Linked DNA regions of Homo sapiens. The protein of the gene in region 4 interacts with the protein of the main gene of each other region in a pairwise test. Each region holds a gene or a part of one and is shown on either strand. Other genes may lie near its edges. The genes, in order: MT1G, RABL6, MT1H and SPINK7.

Region 1 (6,429 bases), on a different chromosome or scaffold from region 4:
TCCTCCCTTCTCAGCCTCCAGAGCAGCTAGGACCACAGGTGCATGGCATCACATCGTCTAATTTTTGTAATTTTTGTAGAGATGGGGTTTCTCCGTGTTGCCCAGGCTAGTCTCAAACTCCTAGGCTCAAACAACCTTCCCACCTCTGCCTCCCAAAGTGCAGGTATTACAGGCATGAGCCACTGTGCCTGGCCCACTCTCTCATTTAATCCCTGCATTGAGATATAATCTCCTTTCTACAAATGAGGCACTAGATGCTCAGAGAGTGTGGGTGACTTGCCCAAACCACACAGCCAGTAAGTGGTGGAGTGGGCTGTGAACTAGGACTGCCTGACAACTAAAACTACACCCTAGGCGCTGGCTGCCTTCTGAAATTGCTTCACAGGGAAGCAGCAGGTAAGCGTGGTCCTGACTTCTACACAAGGAGATTCATCTTCCTCTTTGACTGAACATCAAATAGCATTCCCTCCAGAAATGGAGGGACTAACTTGTCATTAACAAGACATCCAGGGACTCTTTCCTTCCTAAGGAACATCACCACACTCAGCCAGCTGCACAATCTGCCATAGCTGTATTCTGAGAACTTGTGTAAATAAAGTATTAGTAATTATGGAAATGATGAAATCACAATCAAAATTCCAAAATAACTTCATCTGCAACCCACGATCACATTGCCTCTTGCCAGGAGCATGCTGGTTTGAAGTAGTCAAGGGCTGGAGCTTGAAAGAGGAACAAATGAAGCCTGACCTTGGGAGGAACTTCCAAAGATTCTGAGCCAACTCCCAACAGGGAGCTCTCAGGGTTCAGCGAGTGTCCTGAGTGTGCTGTCTTGTGTGTGATGCTGGCTAGGCCAAGCCTGATGGTTCCTCATGAGAATGTCCTGGCCTGTGCTGCTGAAGGTGTGTGGTCCACAGTGGGGTCAGTCTGCTGTTTCCAGTCTCCAATGCAACTCATCCATGAACATATGTGCAGAGTTTGTAAATCTTCCATTTTTCTGTTATTTCTGTATGTATTTATTGATTTTTTTGTGTAAAATGTAAAACATGGGTTCTATATTTTGTGCTTCATTATCTTCATAATTAATATTACTTTATTTACAAAGGTTTAGGTCTGGGATGGATAGAAAATGAAAACTGTCCCTTCACCGTGGAGTTTGAGAAGCCCCATGGAGGATTCAAGTAATTTAGGCATTGGAATCCACCTCCTGTGGCCAATTTCAAGCCTAAAATCTGCTGAGGAACTGAACTTGGGCAGGGAAACCTGAGAATAAACATGAGGAATGGAGAAGTCTCTGTACCACATTTAATATGAGTGGAGCTGATCGCGTATGTCCCCATCCCCATATGAGCCAGGACAGTGCAGGTGCCTTTTACAGAAGATGGAGGTCAGTGATGTAATGGGGCTCACCTGAAGGCGCTCAGACTGTTCAGCACTCACATTTCCATCCAGAGCCCAGTCTTTAAACTCCCAGTTCAATCTCCCACCCCAGTCCCTCATTCCAAAAAACACAACAGGAACCAGAACGGGAATCAAGTCTAAGTGTTTAATTATTATTCACATATTTCACAGAAAAAAAGGAATGTAGCAAATGAGTCGGAGTTGTAGAAAAAAAAAATCCTGGATTTTACGTGTCATTCTGTTTTCATCTGACAGCAGGGCTGTCCCGACATCAGGCACAGCAGCTGCACTTCTCTGACGCCCCTTTGCAGATGCAGCCCTGGGCACACTTGGCACAGCCCAGGGGGCAACAGGAGCAGCAGCCTGGGGAAAAAGGGAGAGAGAAGTCACAGCAGACTTGACCAGGGAGCTCCCTCTCCCAACAGCAGGCCTGGCTCAAGCTCAGACTCCAGCCCCAGAGGATCCTTAGTTCAGGATGGCACAGCTTTTTCAGGAGACGACTGGTGGATATTGGGGTGAGTCTTCCTATGAGAGACTGCCCAGCCCCACAGGAGCCCTGGACAGAGCAGAAGACTGGAAAGGCAGTGACGGCCTAGGGGGACAAAGGAAGCAGGCACTCAGGGCCAGCCTTGGGTTCCCTCCCAACCTTAGCCACAGCCCCAGATTCCTGGAGATGGCCCCGCACTCACTCTTCTTGCAGGAGGTGCATTTGCACTTTTTGCACTTGCAGGAGCCGGCGCAGGCGCAGGAGCCACCTGCAAGGAATAGAAAAAGCCAGTGTGTTGTGAGTGAGATGCAGAAGTTACAGCAGTGGGTCAATGAGTGTCCACTTCCCCCTTCTCTGTTCAGGGCCAGCCGTCAGAGCTCCTTTCCCACTCAGCAGAAGAAGAGAAGACCCATCTCCTCTCCATTCATGCTGGGAAAACCAAGCACCCTCCGTTTGTATTCCAAAGGTAAGTCCCAGGCTCCAGGCACAGCCCGGGAAGACTGCGACTTCGACTTTCTGTGCTGAACCCTGAAGAGGCAATGTCCCCACCTATCCAATGCCTCCCATCCAATCCGGCTGCTCAGAGCCTGGTTAGAGAATTGGGGCTCAGCCAGCAGCCTCGTGACCAACGGGGTGATGTGGAGCAGGACAGCCTTGAGCCTTAGGACCCTCAACTCTGACATAGAGGCACAGGGAAGAGGGACATGCTCTCAGGAGCTTGGCCAAGAGGAAAGCAGCGGAGGAAGTAAAGAAGTCCTCTTCAGCTCAGATCGCAAAATATGACCTCCTCAAACCCAGGGACACTCTCTATGGTGTCTGGGAATTTGGCATCCTAAGGCACAGAACCCGGGCGTTCCTTACCAGCCTCGCAGGAGCAGTTGGGGTCCATTGCAAGCCGAGGTGAGACTGGAGTTCCCAAGCGAGAAGAGAAGAGGCAGTGGAACACGTGGAGGGCGTGGTGGAGCGCAACAGTTGGCAGCTCCTTTTCTAGTCAGGGGAGGGAGCCGGGTGCAGAGACCCTGCCCCACCCTTGCACCCGACCCACTGAGTCCGAGCCGCCCGCGGTCCTGGGCTGGGCTGTGCGCAGCAGACGGGTCGGGCGCAAAGTACCCTGAGCGCAGGTCGGTGCACACCGCGGGGACGGCCCTTTCGCAGCGGCTCCCGCGGGAGGGGCTGTGCACCCGGGTGAGCTGCTTGTTTCACCCTGCCGGGCCTGCCCAGTTCCCTGAGATTACCTGCTACTCCCGCCCTTTGGCGTTCCGCGTGCCCCGAGATCCTGACCTGCGCCCCACACCCCGGGGCCTGCCCACCCCCTGTCAACAGCTAAGGCTTTCCTGGAGTCCCAGTGCAACCCCAGTCTCTTGTTCAATTGTCTGGATTGGTGGGAGCAGAGAGCACAGCGAGGGAGTAGTGTGCAAGGGACATGCCGAGGATGCGACCTTCAGATCTCTGGCATTGCCTGTTCCTGTCCCCGTCCCCACCTCAGTTCTTCGGCCACGTTTCTCCTGTGCACAGCAACACGGAAGACACAGGACCCTGCCTCCCTCCCATCAAAGTATACTTATTCATATCCCTCTATGTCTCTGTTTTGCTTCCAGGACTGACTGTAATGCTTGGTTTTGTTGAAAGATTTCAAGCAGTGAAGAGATAAACATACCTAGGCCATAGAGAAGCTTCATCACTGACCTCTCTACCTAGGGAAGCTGACAGGATTCACACCAAGCAGTGCCACTTCCCAGCTCCCTGACCCTGGGCTAGTGGCTTGAACTCCTCGTCATTGTCCAGATTAGGAATACGGGTTCGTGAAAAGGACTCATGTCCCTTTAGGGTTGCTGTGAGGGTTCAAAGACAGAAAGTGATTAAACAGGGCCAAACACAGACCCGTGTAACATAGAGTAATAGGAATATGGAAGGAAAAATAACCAGCGCTCTTGCTTTCTAATTTAATGCAGGATCTTCATATCACCTTCAATGATCCCTCTTCTAGGGACTTGCCACACTTTCCAAACTGCCATCCTGTAGTGGGGTACCCGGCTAGGCTGTGGGGAGACCCTGGAGAGATTTATGCAAAGGAGGACCTGGACAAATGGGCCCATTCAGCTCCTCAAGAGTGGAGAATAGAAGAGAGAGGCAGATCACTGTTTCTTCCGTGTTACTGAGCACAGGAGAAGCGTGACCAAAGGACTGAGGTGGGAACGGGGACAGGGCGGATACTGCCAGAGATGCGAAGTTCGCACCCTTGGCCTGCCCTTTGCACACTACTCCCTTGCTATGCTCCCCGCTTTGGCAGATCCAGAAAGTGGAGCACAAGACTGGGGTTGCCCTCGACTCCAGGAAAGGCTTAGCTATTGACTAGAGACCTGGGCGTTGGTGAAGGTGAGGGGAAAGCCAGAATACTGGGGTAGGCGGAACGCCAAGGGGCGGGTGTAGCAGGCAACCTCAGGGAAGCTGGGAAGGCCTGGCAGGGTGAGAGAAGCCGCACACGGGGGGCACAGCGCCTCCCTCGCGAGCCGGTGCGAAAGGGGCCGTCCTGCGGTGTGCGCCCAGCTGCGCTCAAGGGACCTTGCACTTGGCCCATCTCCTGCGCACAGCCCAGGCCGGGACCGCGGGCGGTGCGGACTCAGCGGGCTGGGTGCAAGGGCGGGGCGGGGCGTCTGCGCCCGGCCCCGTCTCCTGACTATAAAAACAGCCGCTGGCTGTTGGGCTCCACTCCGCCTTCCACGTGCACCCACTGCCTCTTCCCTTCTCGCTTGGGAACTCTAGTCTCGCCTCGGGTTGCAATGGACCCCAACTGCTCCTGTGCCGCTGGTAAGGGACGCCCGGGTTCTGTGCCTTGGGATGCCAAATTCCCAGACACCATAGAGAGTGTCCCTGGGTTTGAGGAGGTCGTATTTTGCTATCAGAGGTAAAGGGGACTCCTTTATTGGTCCAGTGCTTTCCTGTTGGCCAAGCTCCTGAGGGCATTTTCCTCCTCCCTGTTCCTCTATGTCAGAGTTGAGGGTCCTGAGGCTCAAGGCTGTCCTGCTCCACGTCACCTGGTTGGTCACAGGGCTGCTGGCTGAGCCCCAATTCTCTAACCTGACTCTGAGCTACCGGATTGGATAGGAGACATTGGATAGGAGGGGACATTGCCTCTTCCAGGTTCAGGACAGAAAGTCGAAGTCTTCCTGGGCCATGTCTGCAGCCTGGGACTTTCCTTTGGAGTAGAAATAGGAGGGTGCTTGGTTTTCCCAGCATGAATGGAGAGGACATGGGGCTTCTCTTCCTCTGCTCTGAGTGGGAAAGGAGCTCTGAGGGCTGGCTCTGCACAGAGAAGGGGGAAGTGGACACTCATTGACCCACTGCTGTACCTTCTGCATCTCACTCACCGTTCACTGGCTTTTTCTCTTCTAGCAGGTGTCTCCTGCACCTGCGCCAGCTCCTGCAAGTGCAAAGAGTGCAAATGCACCTCCTGCAAGAAGAGTGAGTGCGGGGCCATCTCCAGGAATCTGGGGCTGTGGCTAAGGTTGGGAGGGAACCCAAGGCTGTCCCTGAGTGCGTGCTTCTGGGGAACCGGCCTTCCTTTGTCCCTGTAGGTTGTCACTGCCTGTCTAGTCTTCTGCACTTTCCAGGGCTTATGTGAGGTGGGGCAGCTTTCTCAAAGGAAGACCCATTCCAATGTCCACCAGTTGTCTCCTGACAAAAACCATGCCATCATGAACTAAGGGTCCTCTGGGGCTGGAGGGATGGAGACAGGCCTCTGTTGGGGCAGGGAGTTCTCTGATCGAGTCTGCTCTGACCTCTCAATCTCCTTTCCTCCCCAGGCTGCTGCTCCTGCTGCCCTGTGGGCTGTGCCAAGTGTGCCCAGGGCTGCATCTGCAAAGGGGCATCGGAGAAGTGCAGCTGCTGCGCCTGATGTCGGGACAGCCCTGCTCCCAAGTACAAATAGAGTGACCCGTAAAATCCAGGATTTTTTGTTTTTTGCTACAATCTTGACCCCTTTGCTACATTCCTTTTTTTCTGTGAAATATGTGAATAATAATTAAACACTTAGACTTGATTCCCGTTCTGGTTCCTGTTGTGTTTTTGGAATGAGGGACTGGGGTGGGAGATTGAACTGGGAGTTTAGACTGGGCTCTGGATGGAAATGTGAGTGCTGAACAGTCTGAGCGCCTTCAGGCAAGCCCCGTTACATCACTGACCTCCATCTTCTGTAAAAGGCACCTGCACTGTGCTGGATGATATGGGGATGGGGACATACGCGATCAGCTCCACTCATTAAACGTGGTACAGAGACTTCTCCATTCCTCATGTTTATTCTCAGGTTTCCCTGCCCAAGTTCAGATCCTCCGCGGATTTTAGGCTTGAAAGTGACCACAGGAGGTGGATTCCAATGCCTAAATTACTTGAATCCTCCACGGGGCTTCTCAAACTCCACGGTGAAGGGACAGTTTTCATTTTCTATCCATCCCAGACCTAAACCTTTGTAAATAAAGTAATATTAACTATGAAGATAATGAAACACAAAATACAGAACCCATGTTTTACATTTTACACAAAAAAAT
Region 2 (7,795 bases), on a different chromosome or scaffold from region 4:
TGGGGTCAAGGTGAGCTCAGGGCCCAGGGCTGGGGGCCCCCCAGGGCCAGCCCTCTTGGATCTTCGGATGGGGTCAAGGTGAGCTCAGGGCCCAGGGCTGGGGCCCCCCAGGGCGGGCTCTCTTGTGTCTTCTGGCCAGGGTCTCTCAGGAGACCCCCATGCCCACACTGCCTACAATCCCCAGAAGGATCCAGTGGCCAGCCCGGCCAGCCTGCTCTGCTCACCCACTGGACAGAGCAGGTCCCATCCAGCACAGGAGCCATGAAGTAGAGGAGAGGGAGAGAACTGGCCGGGCCAGGGCGGGGGTCACCTATTCACCCAGTCTGTGCCAAGGTCCCTGCAAGGCTCTGGGGATACAGCAGGGACCGGGACAGGCAGACCCTGTCCTCCTGAAGTGGGTGGCACTCATCCAGTAGTCCATGAAGAAATGCCACACAGCCCCTGAGCCAGCTCAGCAGAGACAGGTGGGGTGGCAGATGGCTTTCCAGGAAGACAGTGCTTGAGCTGGGCTGAGGGATTGAACCCGCAAAGGTCAGGTGTGGCCAGGGCTAGGGAGGAGGAGGTACAACTTGGGAAAAGGCCCTGGGCTGGGAGGGGTGTGATACATGGAGCAGCGTGTGGCCAGGGCAGTGGAGGCTGCAGAGGCACAGGCCCCAGGAGTCCACGGAGGCGGCTGGGCTGGGGGCCCAAGGACTGACCTGGAGCCCTGGGAGGAGGTGGAGGAAAGATGTGACCAGGTCTGTGCTTCAGAAAGGGTGTACTCAGGCTGCAGGGACTGGAAGGTGCCAGGGCAGAAGCGCTGATCACCTGGGTATACCCGGGGTGGAGAAGGGGTGGCCAGGAGCAACGGAGCTGAGAACTCCTCAAGAGGCAACCCCACTAAGCGCTGGCAACGAGAGTGGCGAGGGTGAGAGCAGTGTCTGGGGTGCGTGAGCAGGGGTTAGCAGATGACGGTTTTAGCTGCCCAAGGGCACGCTGGAAGAGGCCAGGTTTTGGGGAAGAGGATGAATCTGTCTTCAGGCAGGCTGAATGCACTTCCGTGAGTTCTAGGTGGACCTGGCCAGGAGGCAGCTGGGGGCCAGCGGCTGGAGGGCAGCAGAGCGTCTGGGCTGGCACATGCTCTGAGGCATGGGCAAGGAGGGCCGTGAGCTGAGGGGCCACGGGCACAAGTGGTTTAGGAAAAGGGTGTGGCCATTGGCCGGGGATGCAGTTCCAAAGTCTAGTAAGGTGAGCATGGCCAACCGCCCGCTGGCTTTACTGCCATTAGGGGCCTTGTTGAGACAGCTCCCCAACCCTGTGCCCACCCGCATGTCCCCAGAGGAACATGAGGCAAAGGGAGGCGTCCTTCATCGAGGAGCGCCGGGCAAGGGAGAACCGGCTCAACCAGCAGAAGAAGCTGATCGACAAGATCCACACGAAGGAGACCAGCGAGAAGTACCGCCGGGTAAGCCCCAGGCCAGGGCCTGGCTGGCTGCCCATCCCCATGACAGCTGGGTGGACACAGGCTCAGGGCCACCACTCAGGGCCCACTCCCTGCCAAGGATGTCTCATCCCTTCCCCGCCCCCACCTCCCATCAGGGCCAGATGGACTTGGACTTCCCCTCGAACCTGATGAGCACGGAGACCCTGAAATGTAAGCGCTCAGCTCCCCACCTGCCCCCAGCCAGGGTCCCAAGGAGAGGCTGGCACTGATTCAGGCCAACGGATCAAGTCACCCTGAGGCCAGGTGTGACATGTGGTCGCCAGGGTGAAGGGAAGGACAGGTCCCTGCCTCTCCCTCCAGAGGCTGAGAGCCTGTAGCCAAATGTGGCCTCAGAGATGCTGGCCCCAGCACCCAAGGGCCCTGCACCAAGGGCCCAGTCCCCAGTGACTCTGCAGAGGATGAGCATCCTGACCCCTAAGCTGCCTCTGAGAAGCACCACCGGGCCCACAGTGCTCACAGTGCTGCGCCACTCACTCCGGGTCCACCTCTGCTCTGGGGCTGCCTGGGGCGTCCCTGCAGGGCTGGGCTGAGGAGGGAGCAGGTTGGGGCGGGGGCAGGCATCTCTGAAGGATGCCTGTGTCTTGGGTGGCCGCCCCAGCAGCTGGGCAGGTACAGAGGTGTCTGACAGCCTTACACAGAGCCCCTGAGCCATCCCTGCATGCTGACTGCCCCTCCCCTCTGCTCTGCCAGTGAGGAGAAAAGAGACCTCCACAGCAGAAATGGAATACCAGTCGGGCGTGACTGCTGTGGTGGAGAAGGTCAAGAGTGCTGTACGGTGCTCTCACGTCTGGGTAATGCCCCTGGCGCTCCCAGAGAATGGCAGGAGGGTGGCTGAGCCTCTCACGTCTGGGTAATGCTCCCTGGCACTCCCGGAGCATGGCAGGAGGGTGGCTGAGCTGGGCTGGGGTCTGAGGCACTCTGAAATGGACACACAAAGTGGCAACTCCCTCGGCCGCCCCAAATCCTTTTATCTTAATCCCATCTGTGTATCTGCGTTTATTATTATTAGGCCTTGAGCTCCTAACCACTGCCCTGACACAAGCTTGTCCACTGTCAGACAAGTGACTCAAGTGACACAACGTCCTTCAGTGATGATCTCCTTATCTCTACATGGGGTTATCTACCCTCTCTGCCTGCCATTAGGGTCGTGTGCAATGACATCCACAAAGCGCTTCACCCCTGCTAAGTGTGGTGGTGCACACCTGTGGTCCCAGCTACTCAGGAAGCTGAGGTGGGAGGATCGCTTGAGTCTGGGAGGTTGAGGCTGCAGTGAGCTGTGATCACACTTGTGAATGAGCACAGAGAAAGTGCACTAGCGTCTAGGAGGGGCCCAGAAGAAACCAGTTCTGTGAAGCCCCCTCTGCCCACCATCCTGGCCCACACCTGCTTCTCTCTCCCCCGGACTGGCCAGGACATCACTAGCCGCTTCCTGGCCCAGAGGAACACGGAGGAGAACCTGGAGCTGCAGATGGAGGACTGTGAGGAGTGGCGGGTGCAGCTGAAGGCCCTGGTGAAGCAGCTGGAGCTGGAGGAGGCCGTGCTCAAGTTCCGCCAGAAGCCTAGCTCCATCAGGTGCCCCGGGCTTCCGGGGCTGCGGGCCACCCACCCCAGTCTCACAAAGGCCCCGGGCTGCAGCCAGGCTGGGAGCTGGGAGTATACCCACTGCCAACAAGCCTGTGTGTCCCACAGAGGGGCCAGGGGACTCCACTTGCACACACCTGAGCTTCTGAGTCCCTGATTCTGGCACAGCACCCAACTCAGGACTGGGCTCCTGGGTGGCCCACCATGGCTCTCGGGCCTGTGCCCCTCACTGCTGTGTCCCTATTGCCTTCTGCAGCTTCAAGTCCGTTGAGAAGAAAATGACAGACATGCTAAAAGAGGAAGAAGAGAGGCTCCAGCTGGCGCACAGCAACATGACCAAGGGCCAGGAGCTGCTGCTGACCATCCAGATGGGCATCGACAACCTCTATGTCCGGCTGATGGGCATTAACTTGCCTGCGACCCAGGTACCGGGAGTGAGGCTGAGCTGCCACACACCAGGTCCCTGGGCAGGGCCAGAGGGGAGATGAGACCCTCCTCCCGGCCTACAGAGAGAAGTGGTGCTCTCCAACACCCTCGATTTGAACAGCAAGCTGGCGTACTGCGAGGGGAAGCTCACGTACCTGGCTGACAGAGTGCAGATGGTGTCCAGGACCGAGGAGGTAGCCCCGGGCTGGGAGGAACCTGCACAGCCCACGTCCCCTCAAAGCTGACAGGCTCCCGTTCAGAGTGTCTGCACGGCTGAAGGGGGCTTTGCCCTGCAGGGCGACACAAAGGTGAGGGACACCCTGGAGTCCTCGACTCTGATGGAGAAGTACAACACCAGGATCAGCTTTGAGAACCGGGAGGAGGATATGATCGGTACAGGCCCCGGAACTGGGGCCCGGGCTGCAGGCGGGTGGCTGGAACACAGGTCGGGGTGGCGCCGGCTCCCATCCCACCGGGACATCCTGGAGGGACAGCGGGGCTACAGGGTGCATCAGTTGTACCTGCAGGACTTTAATTGATGGAGGTGACTTAGTGATGCCATGGGGAGGCTAAAGCCACTGAAATACCTTGTTAATTTCTCCGAAAGGAGGAGGCATGCCATGCCAGACGGGCCCGGAGGAGAGGCACCAGGGCTGGAGCAGGGAGGAGCGCGGTGAAGGCCTGGGCCGGAGCTTCCACTGGGGGTTCTGCGGGAAAGGCTAGGCAGGGCAGCGTGAGCCGCTGCGAATGGGCTGGGCTGAGTCCTCCCGGCACGCTGGGGCTGTCCCTGGGGCAAGGCACCTGGCCCGGGTCGGTGGAGGGCGGGGGCGAGAGGCGGGTCGGGCGGCTGCGCCTAGCTGGGCTAGCCCCGTGTGCGAGCCGCCGCCTCCGCCCGCAGACACCTTCCAGTTCCCCGACATGGACCACAGCTACGTCCCTTCGCGCGCCGAGATCAAGAGGCAGGCGCAGCGGCTAATCGAGGGGAAGCTCAAGGCGGCCAAGAAAAAGAAGAAGTAGCCCCGCCGCCCCGCTCCCTGCTTTGCTACACAAATAAACATTTTTCCAGGACTGCTGCGGACGCTGGGGCGACCGGGGTCTCGGAGAGGAGCACGGGACACGCAGGATCGGGGGAGGTTCTGCGTAAGGAGGCAGCCCGGGCCCGGAACTGCGCGCCAGAACCGCGTGCGCATGCGCCGACCGCGCGCGCCGCGCCCCCGCGGCCCTCGCGGCGCCCCGTAGCCGCGCACCCCTCCCGTCCCGCCGAGCCGGCGCCAAGATGGCGGCGCTGACTCCTGGAGAGCGGTCGCGCCGGAGGCCGCGGGGGCCGGAGCGGAGCAGCCGCGGCTGAGGTTCCCGAGTCGCCGCTCGGGGCTGCGCTCCGCCGCCGGGACCCCGGCCTCTGGCCGCGCCGGCTCCGGCCTCCGGGGGGGCCGGGGCCGCCGGGACATGGTGCCAGTCGCACCCCTTCCCCGCCGCCGCTGAGCTCGCCGGCCGCGCCCGGGCTGGGACGTCCGAGCGGGAAGATGTTTTCCGCCCTGAAGAAGCTGGTGGGGTCGGACCAGGCCCCGGGCCGGGACAAGAACATCCCCGCCGGGCTGCAGTCCATGAACCAGGCGTTGCAGAGGCGCTTCGCCAAGGGGGTGCAGTACAACAGTGAGTGCGGCGGGCCGGGGGGGCGCGGGAGCGCCGCGCGGGTCTCCGAACCCAGGCCCCGGGCGCCGCGCGGTGGTGGGTGTCGGTCTCACCTGCTTGCCGGTTGTGGGGTGCGCTGGGCCCGCCGGGCGCTCCGGGAGCGGGGGCGCGGGCCAGGGGACGCGAGGAGAGGCCAGGCCAGGGCCGGGTCCTCGCGGCCCCCGAGCCGCGGGTCGTTTCCCAGCCGCACTCGCCTGCCGCGTGTCGCTCCCGCCGCGCTGTGCAGTGGAGCGGGTCGGCGGCGGCGGGGTTGGCCCGGCTGCCCGGCCCGGGGGTGATTACATAATGCCAAGCAGGGCCCGCCGGCCCGGGGCGCCGCGCCCCCGACGCTCCACGGTGCCCAGCCCCGGGCACCACTCACCTGCAGGAGGTGCGGGGAACCCAGCCGGCCTTGGCGCTTTCAGCGGGATTTTTCTTTGTTGACTTCCTACTGAGTTTGAAGACAGAATATTAGCTACGCCACACATTCTCGCCTTTTTTTTTAAAAGAAGCGTTTGTAAGAGACGTATCTAGAAAAGCTCCAGAAGGCACGGGCTGACTTGCGACTGTAGGAGACATCCCATTTCTCGTAGGAAGGAGGAGTCATTTACGGACTCCTGAGTGCCTGGGACGCTCCATTCCTTTGTTATAAATTGTGTAAATTGTCCTCGACCTCTTATGAGTTTTTCCATCTTGCGGGCTCTTTCCCAGTAGTTTTTGAAAGCTTTTATGTGGTTCCCTGTTTTGACATTGCTTCCCTCTTAGCCATTTCCGTATGTTTCTATGAGGTTTTAGGACGCTACGCCTATCCAGTTTTTTGGTCACTTTAAGGGGAGCCTTAGAGCCTCCGTGATATTTCCATGGTAATGTAGAATTTTAAGAACTAATGATCAGAAAGACTCTTGTGCAGGTTTAAAAGCAAGTTCATGAATTCGCGTGCCGTGTGCACGGAGAGAGGCCGTAGTTCCTGGGGCTGGAGCTAGTCCAGGAGGACAGTGAAGATGTCGCCTTCCTTAGTCCCCCGGCCTGTGAGCAAGAGGAAGCTGCAGACCACTCGGGCCACCCTCACCCAGACACCTTTAGCAGTAAGCAAGATAAAACAACTTCTTAAAGATAAGTCTGAGCATCTAGGTATGAAAGTTGGTGTCCGGGCCGGGCACGGTGGCTCATGCCTGTAATCCCAGCACTTTGGGAGGCCAAGGCGGGCAGATCACGAGGTCAGGAATTCGAGACCAGCCTGGCCAACATAGTGAAACACCGTCTCTACTAAAAATACGAAAAAAAAATTTAAAAGAAAGTTGATGTCCGAACCAAGGGCCGTATTGGCTTTTCTTATACTCTAGAACATACGACGACAAAGAAGATTTTGATGAAGTTCAAATTAGAGTCAGCGTGCTCATCAGAAAGAAAGCGCAGCCAACACGTTTAGGAACAGAAACGGATTATGTTGAAGACAAACAATCCATTGCGTTTGTGTTCAGTAACCCAAGCATCAAAGGAACTTGTGGCTGGGGAGAAGGCTTGACTATTTGAAATCTCAGGACTCCTCTGTCCAGGAGCTCCCAGACTCCCGTGGAGTGGAAGCCTGGGGGCTCGCTGAAGAAGTCACGTGACTGGAACGTGCTTAATGCTTGGCTGTCTGGTAAGGAAAATAAAGTGGTGCATTTTGAATAAAAATAAAAGCTGATTTTAAATGTGTTATAATTGAAACTTTATACATAGCTGGCATTCGGAGAAGAGAATATTGAGTCAAAATAACTGAGTTTACGCCAGTTTTTAGACTCTGCGTTTGGATCCTTTATTTAATTTTATTGCTTACAGTATTGGCTAAGCTCAGTATTAGTCCCTGGGAAATCAGGCCTGGACCTGGAAACTGTTCACCTTCTGAAAAGGCTCCCCGAGGGTCCTGGGCAAGGTCCACCTCATGCACCAGGACCACCCCTGTGTGGTCCTGGGCGAGTGTGACTAAAAAGGGCAATGGGGTCCTTCCAGAGGAGAAAAGCCAGTCTCCAGTACTTGGAGAACAGGTTATGATCTCCTAGAACTGAATGAAAGGTGGTGAGACAGAGAGAAATTTGAATTTGTACCTAAATTACATTTTAGAAAGATGTTATCTTTATAGCTGAATAACATGCAATTTTAAAACTTTTGAGTTTCTGTGTTAGAATAGAAAGTTTCTAGTATTTCTTTTCTTTTCTTTTCTTTTTTGAGACAGAGTTTTGCGTTTTGCTGTGTCTCCCAGGCTGGAGTGCAGTGGCGTGATCTCAGCTCACTGCAAGCTCCTCCTCCCGGGTTCACACCATTCTCCTGCTTCAGCCTCCCGAGTAGCTGGGACTATAGGCACCGGCCACCACGCCCGGCTAATTTTTTGTATTTTTAGTAGAGGCAGGATTTCACCGTGTTAGCCAGGATGGTCTCAATCTCCTGACCTCGTGATCTGCCCGCCTCAGCCTCTCAAAGTGCTGGGATTACAGGCGTAAGCCACCATGCCCGGCTTTCTGGTATTTATTTTCTCAAATATTTTACAGAGCGTAACAGACCAGCAATGTGATCAAGACAGAGTCGAGGGTTTTGGGGGTGAGAGTTTCTGGGAACTGCTGCGGGTTTCCAGGAGTCTGGGCTCTCCTCCTGGGC
Region 3 (6,502 bases), on a different chromosome or scaffold from region 4:
TGAGACAGAGTCTCATTCTGTTGCATAGCCTGGAGTGCAGTGGCACAATCTTGGCTGACTGCAGCCTCTATATCCTGGACTTAAGCAATCTTCCCATCTCAGCCTCCAGAGTAGCTCAGACAGACACAGGCCACCAGAGCCATATAATTTTTGTATTTTTTGTAGAGACGGGGTTTCTCCATGTTGCCCGGGCTGGTCTCAAACTCCTGGGCTCAAACAGTCTCCCTACTTCTGCCTCCCAAAGTGCAGGTATTACAGGCATGAGCCACTATGCCCGGCCCACACTCTCATTTAATCCCTGCATTGAGATATAATCTCCTTTCTACAAATGAGGCACTAGATGCTCAGAGAGTGTGGGTGACTTGCCCAAACCACACAGCCAGTAAGTGGTGGAGTGGGCTGTGAAATAAGACTCCCTGACACCTAAAACTATGCCCTAGGGGCAGGCTGCCTTCTGAAATCATTTCACAAGGAAGCAACAGGTAAGTGTGGTCCTGACTTCTACACAAGGAGATTCATCTTCCTCTTTGACTGAACATCAAATAGCATTCCCTCCACAAGTGGAGGGACTAACTTGTCATTAACAAGACATCCAGGGACTCTTTCTTTCCTAAGGAACATCACCACACTCAGCCAGCTGCACAATCTGCCATAGCTGTGTTCTGAGAACTTCTGTAAACAAAGTAATATTAATTATGGAGATGATGAAATCACAATCAAAATTCCAAACTAAGTTCATCTGCAACCCACGATCACACTACATCTTGGCGGGAATATGCTGGTTTGAAGTAGTCAAGGGCTGGAGTTTGAAAGAGGAACAAATGAAGCCTGACCTTGGGAGGAACTTCCAAAGATTCTGAGCCAACTCCCAACAGGGAGCTCTCAGGATTCAGCGAGTGTCCTGAGTGTGCTGTCTGTCTGTGACGCCGGCTAGGCCAAGCCTGATGGTTCCTCATGAGAATGTCCTGGCCTGTGCTGCTGAAGGTGTGGTCCACAGTGGGGTCAGTCTGCTGTTTCCAGTCTCCAATGCAACTCATCCATGAACATATGTGCAGAGTTTGTAAACCTTCCATTTTTCTGTTATTTCTGTATGTATTTATTGATTTTTTTGTGTAAAATGTAAAACATGGGTTCTGTATTTTGTGTTTCATTATCTTCATAGTTAATATTACTTTATTTACAAAGGTTTAGGTCTGGGATGGATAGAAAATGAAAACTGTCCCTTCACCGTGGAGTTTGAGAAGCCCCGTGGAGGATTCAAGTAATTTAGGCATTGGAATCCACCTCCTGTGGTCACTTTCAAGCCTAAAATCCGCGGAGGATCTGAACTTGGGCAGGGAAACCTGAGAATAAACATGAGGAATGGAGAAGTCTCTGTACCACGTTTAATGAGTGGAGCTGATCGCGTATGTCCCCATCCCCATATCATCCAGCACAGTGCAGGTGCCTTTTACAGAAGATGGAGGTCAGTGATGTAACGGGGCTTGCCTGAAGGCGCTCAGACTGTTCAGCACTCACATTTCCATCCAGAGCCCAGTCTAAACTCCCAGTTCAATCTCCCACCCCAGTCCCTCATTCCAAAAACACAACAGGAACCAGAACGGGAATCAAGTCTAAGTGTTTAATTATTATTCACATATTTCACAGAAAAAAAGGAATGTAGCAAAGGGGTCAAGATTGTAGCAAAAAACAAAAAATCCTGGATTTTACGGGTCACTCTATTTGTACTTGGGAGCAGGGCTGTCCCGACATCAGGCGCAGCAGCTGCACTTCTCCGATGCCCCTTTGCAGATGCAGCCCTGGGCACACTTGGCACAGCCCACAGGGCAGCAGGAGCAGCAGCCTGGGGAGGAAAGGAGATTGAGAGGTCAGAGCAGACTCGATCAGAGAACTCCCTGCCCCAACAGAGGCCTGTCTCCATCCCTCCAGCCCCAGAGGACCCTTAGTTCATGATGGCATGGTTTTTGTCAGGAGACAACTGGTGGACATTGGAATGGGTCTTCCTTTGAGAAAGCTGCCCCACCTCACATAAGCCCTGGAAAGTGCAGAAGACTAGACAGGCAGTGACAACCTACAGGGACAAAGGAAGGCCGGTTCCCCAGAAGCACGCACTCAGGGACAGCCTTGGGTTCCCTCCCAACCTTAGCCACAGCCCCAGATTCCTGGAGATGGCCCCGCACTCACTCTTCTTGCAGGAGGTGCATTTGCACTCTTTGCACTTGCAGGAGCTGGCGCAGGTGCAGGAGACACCTGCTAGAAGAGAAAAAGCCAGTGAACGGTGAGTGAGATGCAGAAGGTACAGCAGTGGGTCAATGAGTGTCCACTTCCCCCTTCTCTGTGCAGAGCCAGCCCTCAGAGCTCCTTTCCCACTCAGAGCAGAGGAAGAGAAGCCCCATGTCCTCTCCATTCATGCTGGGAAAACCAAGCACCCTCCTATTTCTACTCCAAAGGAAAGTCCCAGGCTGCAGACATGGCCCAGGAAGACTTCGACTTTCTGTCCTGAACCTGGAAGAGGCAATGTCCCCTCCTATCCAATGTCTCCTATCCAATCCGGTAGCTCAGAGTCAGGTTAGAGAATTGGGGCTCAGCCAGCAGCCCTGTGACCAACCAGGTGACGTGGAGCAGGACAGCCTTGAGCCTCAGGACCCTCAACTCTGACATAGAGGAACAGGGAGGAGGAAAATGCCCTCAGGAGCTTGGCCAACAGGAAAGCACTGGACCAATAAAGGAGTCCCCTTTACCTCTGATAGCAAAATACGACCTCCTCAAACCCAGGGACACTCTCTATGGTGTCTGGGAATTTGGCATCCCAAGGCACAGAACCCGGGCGTCCCTTACCAGCGGCACAGGAGCAGTTGGGGTCCATTGCAACCCGAGGCGAGACTAGAGTTCCCAAGCGAGAAGGGAAGAGGCAGTGGGTGCACGTGGAAGGCGGAGTGGAGCCCAACAGCCAGCGGCTGTTTTTATAGTCAGGAGACGGGGCCGGGCGCAGACGCCCCGCCCCGCCCTTGCACCCAGCCCGCTGAGTCCGCACCGCCCGCGGTCCCGGCCTGGGCTGTGCGCAGGAGATGGGCCAAGTGCAAGGTCCCTTGAGCGCAGCTGGGCGCACACCGCAGGACGGCCCCTTTCGCACCGGCTCGCGAGGGAGGCGCTGTGCCCCCCGTGTGCGGCTTCTCTCACCCTGCCAGGCCTTCCCAGCTTCCCTGAGGTTGCCTGCTACACCCGCCCCTTGGCGTTCCGCCTACCCCAGTATTCTGGCTTTCCCCTCACCTTCACCAACGCCCAGGTCTCTAGTCAATAGCTAAGCCTTTCCTGGAGTCGAGGGCAACCCCAGTCTTGTGCTCCACTTTCTGGATCTGCCAAAGCGGGGAGCATAGCAAGGGAGTAGTGTGCAAAGGGCAGGCCAAGGGTGCGAACTTCGCATCTCTGGCAGTATCCGCCCTGTCCCCGTTCCCACCTCAGTCCTTTGGTCACGCTTCTCCTGTGCTCAGTAACACGGAAGAAACAGTGATCTGCCTCTCTCTTCTATTCTCCACTCTTGAGGAGCTGAATGGGCCCATTTGTCCAGGTCCTCCTTTGCATAAATCTCTCCAGGGTCTCCCCACAGCCTAGCCGGGTACCCCACTACAGGATGGCAGTTTGGAAAGTGTGGCAAGTCCCTAGAAGAGGGATCATTGAAGGTGATATGAAGATCCTGCATTAAATTAGAAAGCAAGAGCGCTGGTTATTTTTCCTTCCATATTCCTATTACTCTATGTTACACGGGTCTGTGTTTGGCCCTGTTTAATCACTTTCTGTCTTTGAACCCTCACAGCAACCCTAAAGGGACATGAGTCCTTTTCACGAACCCGTATTCCTAATCTGGACAATGACGAGGAGTTCAAGCCACTAGCCCAGGGTCAGGGAGCTGGGAAGTGGCACTGCTTGGTGTGAATCCTGTCAGCTTCCCTAGGTAGAGAGGTCAGTGATGAAGCTTCTCTATGGCCTAGGTATGTTTATCTCTTCACTGCTTGAAATCTTTCAACAAAACCAAGCATTACAGTCAGTCCTGGAAGCAAAACAGAGACATAGAGGGATATGAATAAGTATACTTTGATGGGAGGGAGGCAGGGTCCTGTGTCTTCCGTGTTGCTGTGCACAGGAGAAACGTGGCCGAAGAACTGAGGTGGGGACGGGGACAGGAACAGGCAATGCCAGAGATCTGAAGGTCGCATCCTCGGCATGTCCCTTGCACACTACTCCCTCGCTGTGCTCTCTGCTCCCACCAATCCAGACAATTGAACAAGAGACTGGGGTTGCACTGGGACTCCAGGAAAGCCTTAGCTGTTGACAGGGGGTGGGCAGGCCCCGGGGTGTGGGGCGCAGGTCAGGATCTCGGGGCACGCGGAACGCCAAAGGGCGGGAGTAGCAGGTAATCTCAGGGAACTGGGCAGGCCCGGCAGGGTGAAACAAGCAGCTCACCCGGGTGCACAGCCCCTCCCGCGGGAGCCGCTGCGAAAGGGCCGTCCCCGCGGTGTGCACCGACCTGCGCTCAGGGTACTTTGCGCCCGACCCGTCTGCTGCGCACAGCCCAGCCCAGGACCGCGGGCGGCTCGGACTCAGTGGGTCGGGTGCAAGGGTGGGGCAGGGTCTCTGCACCCGGCTCCCTCCCCTGACTAGAAAAGGAGCTGCCAACTGTTGCGCTCCACCACGCCCTCCACGTGTTCCACTGCCTCTTCTCTTCTCGCTTGGGAACTCCAGTCTCACCTCGGCTTGCAATGGACCCCAACTGCTCCTGCGAGGCTGGTAAGGAACGCCCGGGTTCTGTGCCTTAGGATGCCAAATTCCCAGACACCATAGAGAGTGTCCCTGGGTTTGAGGAGGTCATATTTTGCGATCTGAGCTGAAGAGGACTTCTTTACTTCCTCCGCTGCTTTCCTCTTGGCCAAGCTCCTGAGAGCATGTCCCTCTTCCCTGTGCCTCTATGTCAGAGTTGAGGGTCCTAAGGCTCAAGGCTGTCCTGCTCCACATCACCCCGTTGGTCACGAGGCTGCTGGCTGAGCCCCAATTCTCTAACCAGGCTCTGAGCAGCCGGATTGGATGGGAGGCATTGGATAGGTGGGGACATTGCCTCTTCAGGGTTCAGCACAGAAAGTCGAAGTCGCAGTCTTCCCGGGCTGTGCCTGGAGCCTGGGACTTACCTTTGGAATACAAACGGAGGGTGCTTGGTTTTCCCAGCATGAATGGAGAGGAGATGGGTCTTCTCTTCTTCTGCTGAGTGGGAAAGGAGCTCTGACGGCTGGCCCTGAACAGAGAAGGGGGAAGTGGACACTCATTGACCCACTGCTGTAACTTCTGCATCTCACTCACAACACACTGGCTTTTTCTATTCCTTGCAGGTGGCTCCTGCGCCTGCGCCGGCTCCTGCAAGTGCAAAAAGTGCAAATGCACCTCCTGCAAGAAGAGTGAGTGCGGGGCCATCTCCAGGAATCTGGGGCTGTGGCTAAGGTTGGGAGGGAACCCAAGGCTGGCCCTGAGTGCCTGCTTCCTTTGTCCCCCTAGGCCGTCACTGCCTTTCCAGTCTTCTGCTCTGTCCAGGGCTCCTGTGGGGCTGGGCAGTCTCTCATAGGAAGACTCACCCCAATATCCACCAGTCGTCTCCTGAAAAAGCTGTGCCATCCTGAACTAAGGATCCTCTGGGGCTGGAGTCTGAGCTTGAGCCAGGCCTGCTGTTGGGAGAGGGAGCTCCCTGGTCAAGTCTGCTGTGACTTCTCTCTCCCTTTTTCCCCAGGCTGCTGCTCCTGTTGCCCCCTGGGCTGTGCCAAGTGTGCCCAGGGCTGCATCTGCAAAGGGGCGTCAGAGAAGTGCAGCTGCTGTGCCTGATGTCGGGACAGCCCTGCTGTCAGATGAAAACAGAATGACACGTAAAATCCAGGATTTTTTTTTTCTACAACTCCGACTCATTTGCTACATTCCTTTTTTTCTGTGAAATATGTGAATAATAATTAAACACTTAGACTTGATTCCCGTTCTGGTTCCTGTTGTGTTTTTTGGAATGAGGGACTGGGGTGGGAGATTGAACTGGGAGTTTAAAGACTGGGCTCTGGATGGAAATGTGAGTGCTGAACAGTCTGAGCGCCTTCAGGTGAGCCCCATTACATCACTGACCTCCATCTTCTGTAAAAGGCACCTGCACTGTCCTGGCTCATATGGGGATGGGGACATACGCGATCAGCTCCACTCATATTAAATGTGGTACAGAGACTTCTCCATTCCTCATGTTTATTCTCAGGTTTCCCTGCCCAAGTTCAGTTCCTCAGCAGATTTTAGGCTTGAAATTGGCCACAGGAGGTGGATTCCAATGCCTAAATTACTTGAATCCTCCATGGGGCTTCTCAAACTCCACGGTGAAGGGACAGTTTTCATTTTCTATCCATCCCAGACCTAAACCTTTGTAAATAAAGTAATATTAATTATGAAGATAATGAAGCACAAAATATAGAACCCATGTTTTACATTTTAC
Region 4 (7,607 bases):
CTCACTTCTTAACCAACTGAGATCAAATGTTTGGTATAAGAAATTATTTCACTACCTTCTAAAAATTACAGTGCTGGACTCCTACATCCTGTTCAAGAAGGACAATCCTGAGCACACAATTAGCCATGTAAACTTCAGACTGACATCGATTGAAAGAATGCTGGAAAAATATCACAGACCATAGCTGGAATATCTTTGAGGTCGTCCATGCTCTGATGATGTCACTCTTCTTTGCCTGTCTGGAAGACATCTCCCCAAGAGCACACCACCAACATCAGGGGGGTGGAATCCAACTGGTCACTGCAAGTTTGCTGCTTACACAATGACAAGCATAGCAAGATCTGGAGAGAAACGGAATATTTTTGTGTATAATATGATGTTCTGCTTTGTGTTGTTCTGTGCTTTGAAATTTACCAAATTAAAAAAAAACTACTAAATACTGATCATCATTTACATTTCTGTTACATTAGGATTAGAGATAAGTTCTGTTTAGAAATAACTCCAAGAACAGTTTTTGTATTTTATTTTCACATTGAAAATTAGATTTACTTCAGCCTCAAAGAGCATGTTTATGTAAAAATAAATGAATGCCGGCAGCAAGCTGCACTTTTTTTTTCTAAATGGGAAAAGAGCTAATTTTATTCTGCCTTCTTCATGATGAAACCAGGACCATAGTTATTCTCTCTTACAAGGCCTCAAGATTTTCTCCTTGGAGAACTATAAGGATAAATGAAAAAACTATCCTGAAATGGACTGCTTTTATCTTCACAGGCTTTGACTCTCATTTTAAAAGCCTCCTCCATAATTTGTGCCTCAGTATCTGGCTGGAAAATTTCCTCTCTATGTAAATGGCTTCCAAAACCCAAACCAACCCCTCTCCTGATCCCTTGACCTCACCTTTCCTCATCCTTTTCAATCGAGAGACGTTTATCTCCACCCACTGGATACACCCTGAGGATCATTATCTCAGCCCCACCCCTGAGAAATAGTATCCGACAACTTGATTCCTAGCCCTGTCTCAATAAACAATTGTTCTTATTTCCTATACCTACCACATTTTGCCTAAACCTTGATCTCTAAACACTTAAATGCCTGTACCTTGTGTAGCCCATCAGAAACTTCTGGAACATTTAACTCTCTTTCAAGCTTTGCCACCTCCTAATGCAGTCTTTATGGTATCTTCAAGCCTCTGATGTATCCATTCCCTATCTATAAAATCACTGTTCCCCATTTCTCACTCTGTGTCGCACAAACTTTGGGAGAAATACGAGGAATAGTACTAATTGGGCCTTCTAAAATCTAGTTCTAACTTGTCCAGTGGCCATTAATCTTTAGATCCATTGCTGACTATCTGACATGCTGCCAAGTCTTCTATCATCTGTCTCAAGCTCCCAAACGAACCCAGTTCTCCCAGTGCAAAAAAGCAAACCAGCACTGAACAACTAGAGCCTACCTTACAGTGGGCTTCCCCCATCTCTCCTTCCTTACCCTTCAAAATATGCCTGTCTCTACATTTATCCACTCTTCTCTCTCTCATGTGTCAGAGAAAATGGTTTTTCATCTGTGCTCTTAACCTTATTTTCTATCTTTCTACATGCATCTAATTAGCCACTCTCTACCATGTATGTAAAATTTCTTCTTCTCTTTGGTTTTAAGACATGCTCAGTCTATCCTAGATCTTTCTGTAGCCTCAGCTTCTTCCATTCCTCCTTTGACTATCAAAAATTTAAAAAAAAATCTGTGATCCTATCTTTTACCACCATTTTGACCACCCTTTGACCCTATTCCCACTCCTCTTTGATAAAAGCACATTTTCAAACTGCAATAAAGATACCTCATCTTGAAACACAATGGCTTTTTCTTAGGATTCATTCTTTTCAAACATTCATGGCAAACAATGAAACCTACAATTACCTCTCCTTATTGGAACCTTCACTTTGCTTCTTTTCCTTGACTGAACTCAGCAGTTTCCTCCATTAATTGTATCATGATCCTTGGGAGATTACTTAAATCCTCTGAGTCTTAACTTACTCACTGGCAAAACTAGGGTAACAAAAACTCCTTCCTTAATGAGTTGTTATAAAGAGCACATTCCATATTATTAGCTACCATATATCAAGATCTAATTATGAGCTTGGTGCCCTAATACACAAATACATACAAACCACACAAGCATACCACACAGACACCTCACAGACATGCATCCATAAGAGATTATATGCACAGTTGACCCTTGAATAAAATTGGTCTGAACTGCACATGTTGACTTATACATAGATTTTCTTCTACCTCTGCCACTCCTGAGACAGTAAAATCAACTTTTCCTCTTTCTTCTTCTCCTTAGTCTACTCAAGATGAGGACAACAAAGATGAAAACTTTTATGATGATCCATTTCCACTTAATTAATGTAAATATATTTTATCTTCCTTACAATTTTCTTAATAACATTTTCTTTTTTCTAGCTTACTTTGTTGTAGGAATACAGTGTATAATACATGTAACATACAAAACGTGTAGATTAACTGTTTATGTTATTAATAAGGTCAACAGTAGGATATTAAGGATATTAATAGTTAAATTATTGAAAAATAAAAAAATTGTATGTTAATTTTTCAACTGTGGTGGTGTCAGCACCCCGGACGCCATGTTGTTCAAGAGTTGAATGTATAATGTGTGTGTGTGAGAGAGTGTGTGTCTGTAAAATCTAATTTAACACTCAAAACAACCTATGAGGTAAATATTATTTCTGTCATAAGGATGAAGACACTAAAGTATCAGATGTTAACCTAAATACTAAAAGACACACAGTCAACATTTTTTAGAAGAAAGATTCTAAATGGGATCTACTCAATGCCCATGCTCTTAACTACTAGATTACATTGCCTCCCAAACAGATATAGGAGTAAAATATTAGAGATTATGCAATATCATTTATTAGTCACTTAATATGTCTTGTAGATGCTAGTTTTAGAATGTACTAAAATAAACCTGCCAAGCAGTAAACTAGTGGGACAGTCTACTGCCTTCCCCCAGGTCTTCATACATATGTCCTTAAACTCAATAAGCAAACTGCAGCTATTTGGACAGTTGTGCATGGACAATACAGTTTACAATCTAATGTCAGCAACTCATAGCATTAACTCTTGGTTTGTAAATAATAATAACAATCACAATAATATTATTAAATGCACTGTGCTTTAGAGCAGACTTTTATGTATATGATTCCAATTATGTGAACTCTATTGTGGCTAACAACAGGCCCTATTGGACTGGGATGAAACTCAGTCTCTGGGATGGTCTCTGTTGTTTGCCAACTATTCTAGTTCTTCATCCAACCTTCAGGTCAGGGAACAGGTCAGGACAAGGTAAGACTGTGTATTAATCTGTTTTCAAGCTGCTGATAAAGACATACCCAAGATTGGGTAATTTATAAAGAAAAAGAAGTTTAATGGGCTCACAGTTCCACATGGCTGAAGAGGCCTCACAATCATGGCAGAAAGTGAATGGCATGTCTTACATGGCAGCAGGCAAGAGAGAATGAGAGCCAAGTGCAAGGGGAAACCCCTTATAAAACCATCAGATCTTGTGAGACTTATTCACTTCCATGAGAACAGTATGGGGGAAACTGCCTCCATGATTCAATTATCTCCCACCAGGTCCCTCCCACAACATATGGGAATTATGGGAGCTACAATTCAAGATGGGATTTGGGTGGAGACACAGCTAAACCACATCAGATTGATTGCACTCACTCCATACATAACAAAGCATGTGATGGCCACGAGACCATGAGGGGAAGTGACAGCAGTATTGCTCTGGGCTGGAAGTTTTAATTGCTAAAATGAGAACTCCTTGAGAACGAACTCAACTTCACTTCACCTTGACTACAGTGTTCCAAATAGTGATGACTCTGCCCACTTGGCATCCACAGTGAAGGCAATGTAGCATGAACAGCTGACTACCATACAAGTGTAGCTTGAGTAAGAAACAAAGTTTTGTTTTAATTCACAGAAATCTTGTGGTTACATGTTATCACGACATAACCAAGCCTTTTGGATTGATAAAGGCTCACAGCATATAACGACTTATCCAAGATTATACAGGTAGAAAATATCAGAAGTATTATGTTAGTGCTTTTCTCCATACCTCATAAATGCTAATGTCAGTGTTCCTTCCATTAGGTCCCAGTTTGCTTCATTGGTTCATTGCCTCAAAAATAAACAATATTTCCCCAGGTGCCAAGATATAAACGTAGGTGTAATCAGTCTAATCGGGGTTTAATAGATTCCAGTTTCGTAAAATAAAGGAGGTTTGAGATTTTCACTTATTTCATAACTAAGTCAAGAAGCTCATACTTAGTCTCTTCTAGTTCATGAAGTTTAGAATTCTTAACAGTCCCACCTTTGGGGAAGATAGAAAATACTTCTTACCTCAAATAATCAAATCATTGGTCAGATAAGAAGTGGCAGTTCAGTAACAAGGACTGTAACACAGCCCAGGGTGTGGCACCGTGCTTTGAGATCCTCTGGATGACCTCACAGGAAAGGCGGAGAAACCAAGCCTTGCATATATATAAACATGACCCCTTACCTGGGATATGGTCGATGCAGCTGTAGTGACAATCTCAGAGCAGCTTCTACACCACAGCCATTTCCAGCATGAAGATCACTGGGGGTCTCCTTCTGCTCTGTACAGTGGTCTATTTCTGTAGCAGCTCAGGTAAGTTAAGGTCAGACAGTGCCCTATATAGCCATTAAGATTGTTTTCATAAATAATCCCTCCTGCGATGTGAGCATCTCAGAAACATCTGGTTGTAAGAATTTAAAGTGTACTGGTTTGTAATAGGATCTTATGTTCCATCTGGAGTTTGAGAGACTTGAGTCCAATGTCTTCACTTTCAAGGATTCTTATTTGCATCCATAGAACAAAAAATGATCTAATTTCTCTGTAAGTCTTCCATTTCTATGTTCATATGGACACTGGAAGTTGTCAGTGTTATTAGATATACCATTTCTTAGTGCAAAGATACAGAAAAACTTGGATGTCTTCCCAAATCAGTTTGGGGGGATTAAAATAAAACACAAGTCTCAAAAAGCCAAGGGTCAACAATTAGACTTTTATACTGTGAAAAATTAATTAAAGTGTTTCCAACCACATAAAGACATTCAATTGCATTTCTTTATGTCAATTGGGAAGGAAAGGATATCAGAGATGATCCTTCAGGCTCTTAGGAGTGATGATTTTAATACTTCTTATTGCTACTTGACTTTGGCCATTATCAAAAACACTATGAGGTTCAGAAAACATTCCATGATCAATAAATAGAGGAAATTTTTATAATTCTCTTACCTAAACCAAGGGTTAACCTAACCCATTGGCCATTCAACTTCCTCAGCAAACAACTAGGATTTTGCATAAGGATGGAGAGTGTGCTGAATCTCATTGCTAAAGGAAATGTAGAGTAATTATATAGGATGAAACTTATATTAATTAATGAGATTTAAAGTTTGCTTTACTTTTAACATCTTCATCTGTATCTCTTTTTCAGAAGCTGCTAGTCTGTCTCCAAAAAAAGTAAGTATGTTGAATAACATTTTAATGTCAATAACTATTGACTGTCATTTAGTCAACATATATGTAGGATAAATTATGTTTAGGGGGATTCGAGAGGGAGGCAAACACACATGGAGAAATGGTACCTGTTCTCCAGAAGGCAACTAAACAAATATGACATACATATAAACAACCATATTTTAAAAATGTTTTTTAAAAATGCCAGAGTTAAAGAAGGGAGAACCGCCTTCCAGCTGAGAAGTTGGTGATGTTTTCATAAAAGGCATAACGTGTAAAAGGCAGAGCAAAAGTACCCTGATAAATTGCACAGGCTCTAGATTCAAATCCTAACTCTACTACTTACCAGCATTTATCTTCAACAAGTTATCTCTATTTCTAAGCTTTAATTTTCACATTTGTAAAGAGAGGTAATAGTAGAATTTACTCTAGTTGTTCTGAAGATTAAACAAGAAAATTCATGCAAGATTTAAGTTTAACGCCTAGCCCAGAAATGCCCAGCAATTGTTAACTGAGTGTAGCAGAAAAAAATAGAATACCAGTAGTGCTAGTATTTGTCATAGTGATAACACTAGTACTTAAAGAAGTGGCCAAGCAACATCTGAATATCTGAGCTGGGACTTCCAGCCCTTGTAGTATATCTAATAGTGGCCTAGCTTGGGGTCTGGGAGAAAAACAGGACATTTGCTTGTATATGACACAGGTGGACTGCAGCATTTACAAGAAGTATCCAGTGGTGGCCATCCCCTGCCCCATCACATACCTACCAGTTTGTGGTTCTGACTACATCACCTATGGGAATGAATGTCACTTGTGTACCGAGAGCTTGTGAGTACCTCATAAGAAGAAAATGAGATCTGGAGTCAGTGCTCTCTACTACAAACGCTTCTACTTTCCAGGATCCAGCTTAAATCTCTATAAGCTGTAATTTATAATTATTCCCACCCAGAACAGCAGGTGGGGATAGAAAACTGACTGTTGCACAATCAGACAGGGTAGAGTCACCTGCTCTGCCAGCTTGGACTAGTCCCATCCCATCACAGAACCTCCAGTTCCTGTCTGTCAATTGTGAGAATCCAGTAAGGCTGTGGATTCTCAAACTGCTGTCCCCAGAGCACAGAGGTTCTATAGAGGCAAGTCAGGAGTCACCATTAGGGTTAAAGGGACTATTTGGGGTAGTTGACAACATAAAGTTCAGCTTTGACTATTTTAAGTAGTGGAGTGCCATACAATATCATGCTTGAAGAAAGGGCCCTGAATCCCCACCCCCCATAAAATAATTGAAAACTACTACACTACCTGACTTAGATTCTAAGATAATTAACATCCTCACTGCAGCTTGATTCTTAGACAAAGTGTCCCTAGAGGTTCTTTATCTTCGAATTTCTAGAGGCTCTAAGTATCTGTAGCTTTAAGGGGGGAATAAGGCTACAAAAATGATTACTTTTCCTTTATCTAAAATAAGGGATGCAAGCTGTCAGTATTTGGACCAGAATACCACGGACATGTTTTGTTTAGGTATTTTCTTTGGCCCACAAAATGTTTTTGCAGAAATGTAGCTAGGCAGATGTCACTTCTTTGGTACAAGACATGCAAATTACACTTAACTGTCTCATAGCAAGTCTGCTGTGATCATCGTTAACTCTTTTAGGCCACTGGATTTTGGACACTTAGATCTTGCGTTTTCATCTTTGTGATTATCTTAACAAGTGAGAACAACAAGCCCTTAGCCCAAAAGGACATGTCTATGTATTTATTCCTATTTGGGAGGTTTTATTTCACAAAAGGGAAAATTCTGTAACATAGGCAGACTGGGAAACTAGCCCTTGGCCAGGAAACTAGCTGTTTTCAAGGGACACTGGAGAGAAACATGATGAAAGTCCTCCTCACTAATGCAGGATCCAGCTTCGTCAAAGGACTTGCTGACCAGGAAAAGCTGAGAGACAGGCCCTCTCAATTTTGTCAGAGTACTCTTTCTTTGTTGTGTTAAGACACTGGGTGGTCAGTGGGGCTCTGGAATCAGAGGAGGCAGCAG

What was found.
Region 1: the proteins of SPINK7 (region 4) and MT1G interact in binary tests that used the Homo sapiens proteins (3 or more experiments, as listed by UniProt).
Region 2: the proteins of SPINK7 (region 4) and RABL6 interact in binary tests that used the Homo sapiens proteins (3 or more experiments, as listed by UniProt).
Region 3: the proteins of SPINK7 (region 4) and MT1H interact in binary tests that used the Homo sapiens proteins (3 or more experiments, as listed by UniProt).

Annotation. Positions count from the first base shown.
Region 1 is NC_000016.10:56,666,230-56,672,658, reverse strand, and holds MT1G (metallothionein-1G), read left to right. Parts: upstream 1-4,593; 5' UTR 4,594-4,665; coding exon 4,666-4,693; intron 4,694-5,278; coding exon 5,279-5,347; intron 5,348-5,688; coding exon 5,689-5,780; 3' UTR 5,781-5,929; downstream 5,930-6,429. Other genes in the region: MT1H (metallothionein-1H), read right to left, coding at 1,670-1,761, 2,088-2,153, 2,747-2,774. UniProt on the Homo sapiens protein: Metallothioneins have a high content of cysteine residues that bind various heavy metals; these proteins are transcriptionally regulated by both heavy metals and glucocorticoids.
Region 2 is NC_000009.12:136,803,184-136,810,978, forward strand, and holds the start of RABL6 (rab-like protein 6), read left to right. Parts: upstream 1-4,764; 5' UTR 4,765-5,013; coding exon 5,014-5,143; intron 5,144-5,543; exon of another isoform or gene 5,544-5,665; intron 5,666-7,795. Other genes in the region: CCDC183 (coiled-coil domain-containing protein 183), read left to right, coding at 1,319-1,444, 1,579-1,633, 2,174-2,274, 2,895-3,055, 3,321-3,489, 3,574-3,684, 3,787-3,883, 4,389-4,507. UniProt on the Homo sapiens protein: May enhance cellular proliferation. May reduce growth inhibitory activity of CDKN2A.
Region 3 is NC_000016.10:56,665,128-56,671,629, forward strand, and holds MT1H (metallothionein-1H), read left to right. Parts: upstream 1-4,686; 5' UTR 4,687-4,757; coding exon 4,758-4,785; intron 4,786-5,378; coding exon 5,379-5,444; intron 5,445-5,770; coding exon 5,771-5,862; 3' UTR 5,863-6,002; downstream 6,003-6,502. Other genes in the region: MT1G (metallothionein-1G), read right to left, coding at 1,752-1,843, 2,185-2,253, 2,839-2,866. UniProt on the Homo sapiens protein: Metallothioneins have a high content of cysteine residues that bind various heavy metals; these proteins are transcriptionally regulated by both heavy metals and glucocorticoids.
Region 4 is NC_000005.10:148,307,825-148,315,431, forward strand, and holds the start of SPINK7 (serine protease inhibitor Kazal-type 7 precursor), read left to right. Parts: upstream 1-4,598; 5' UTR 4,599-4,659; coding exon 4,660-4,720; intron 4,721-5,549; coding exon 5,550-5,575; intron 5,576-6,275; coding exon 6,276-6,400; intron 6,401-7,607. UniProt on the Homo sapiens protein: Probable serine protease inhibitor.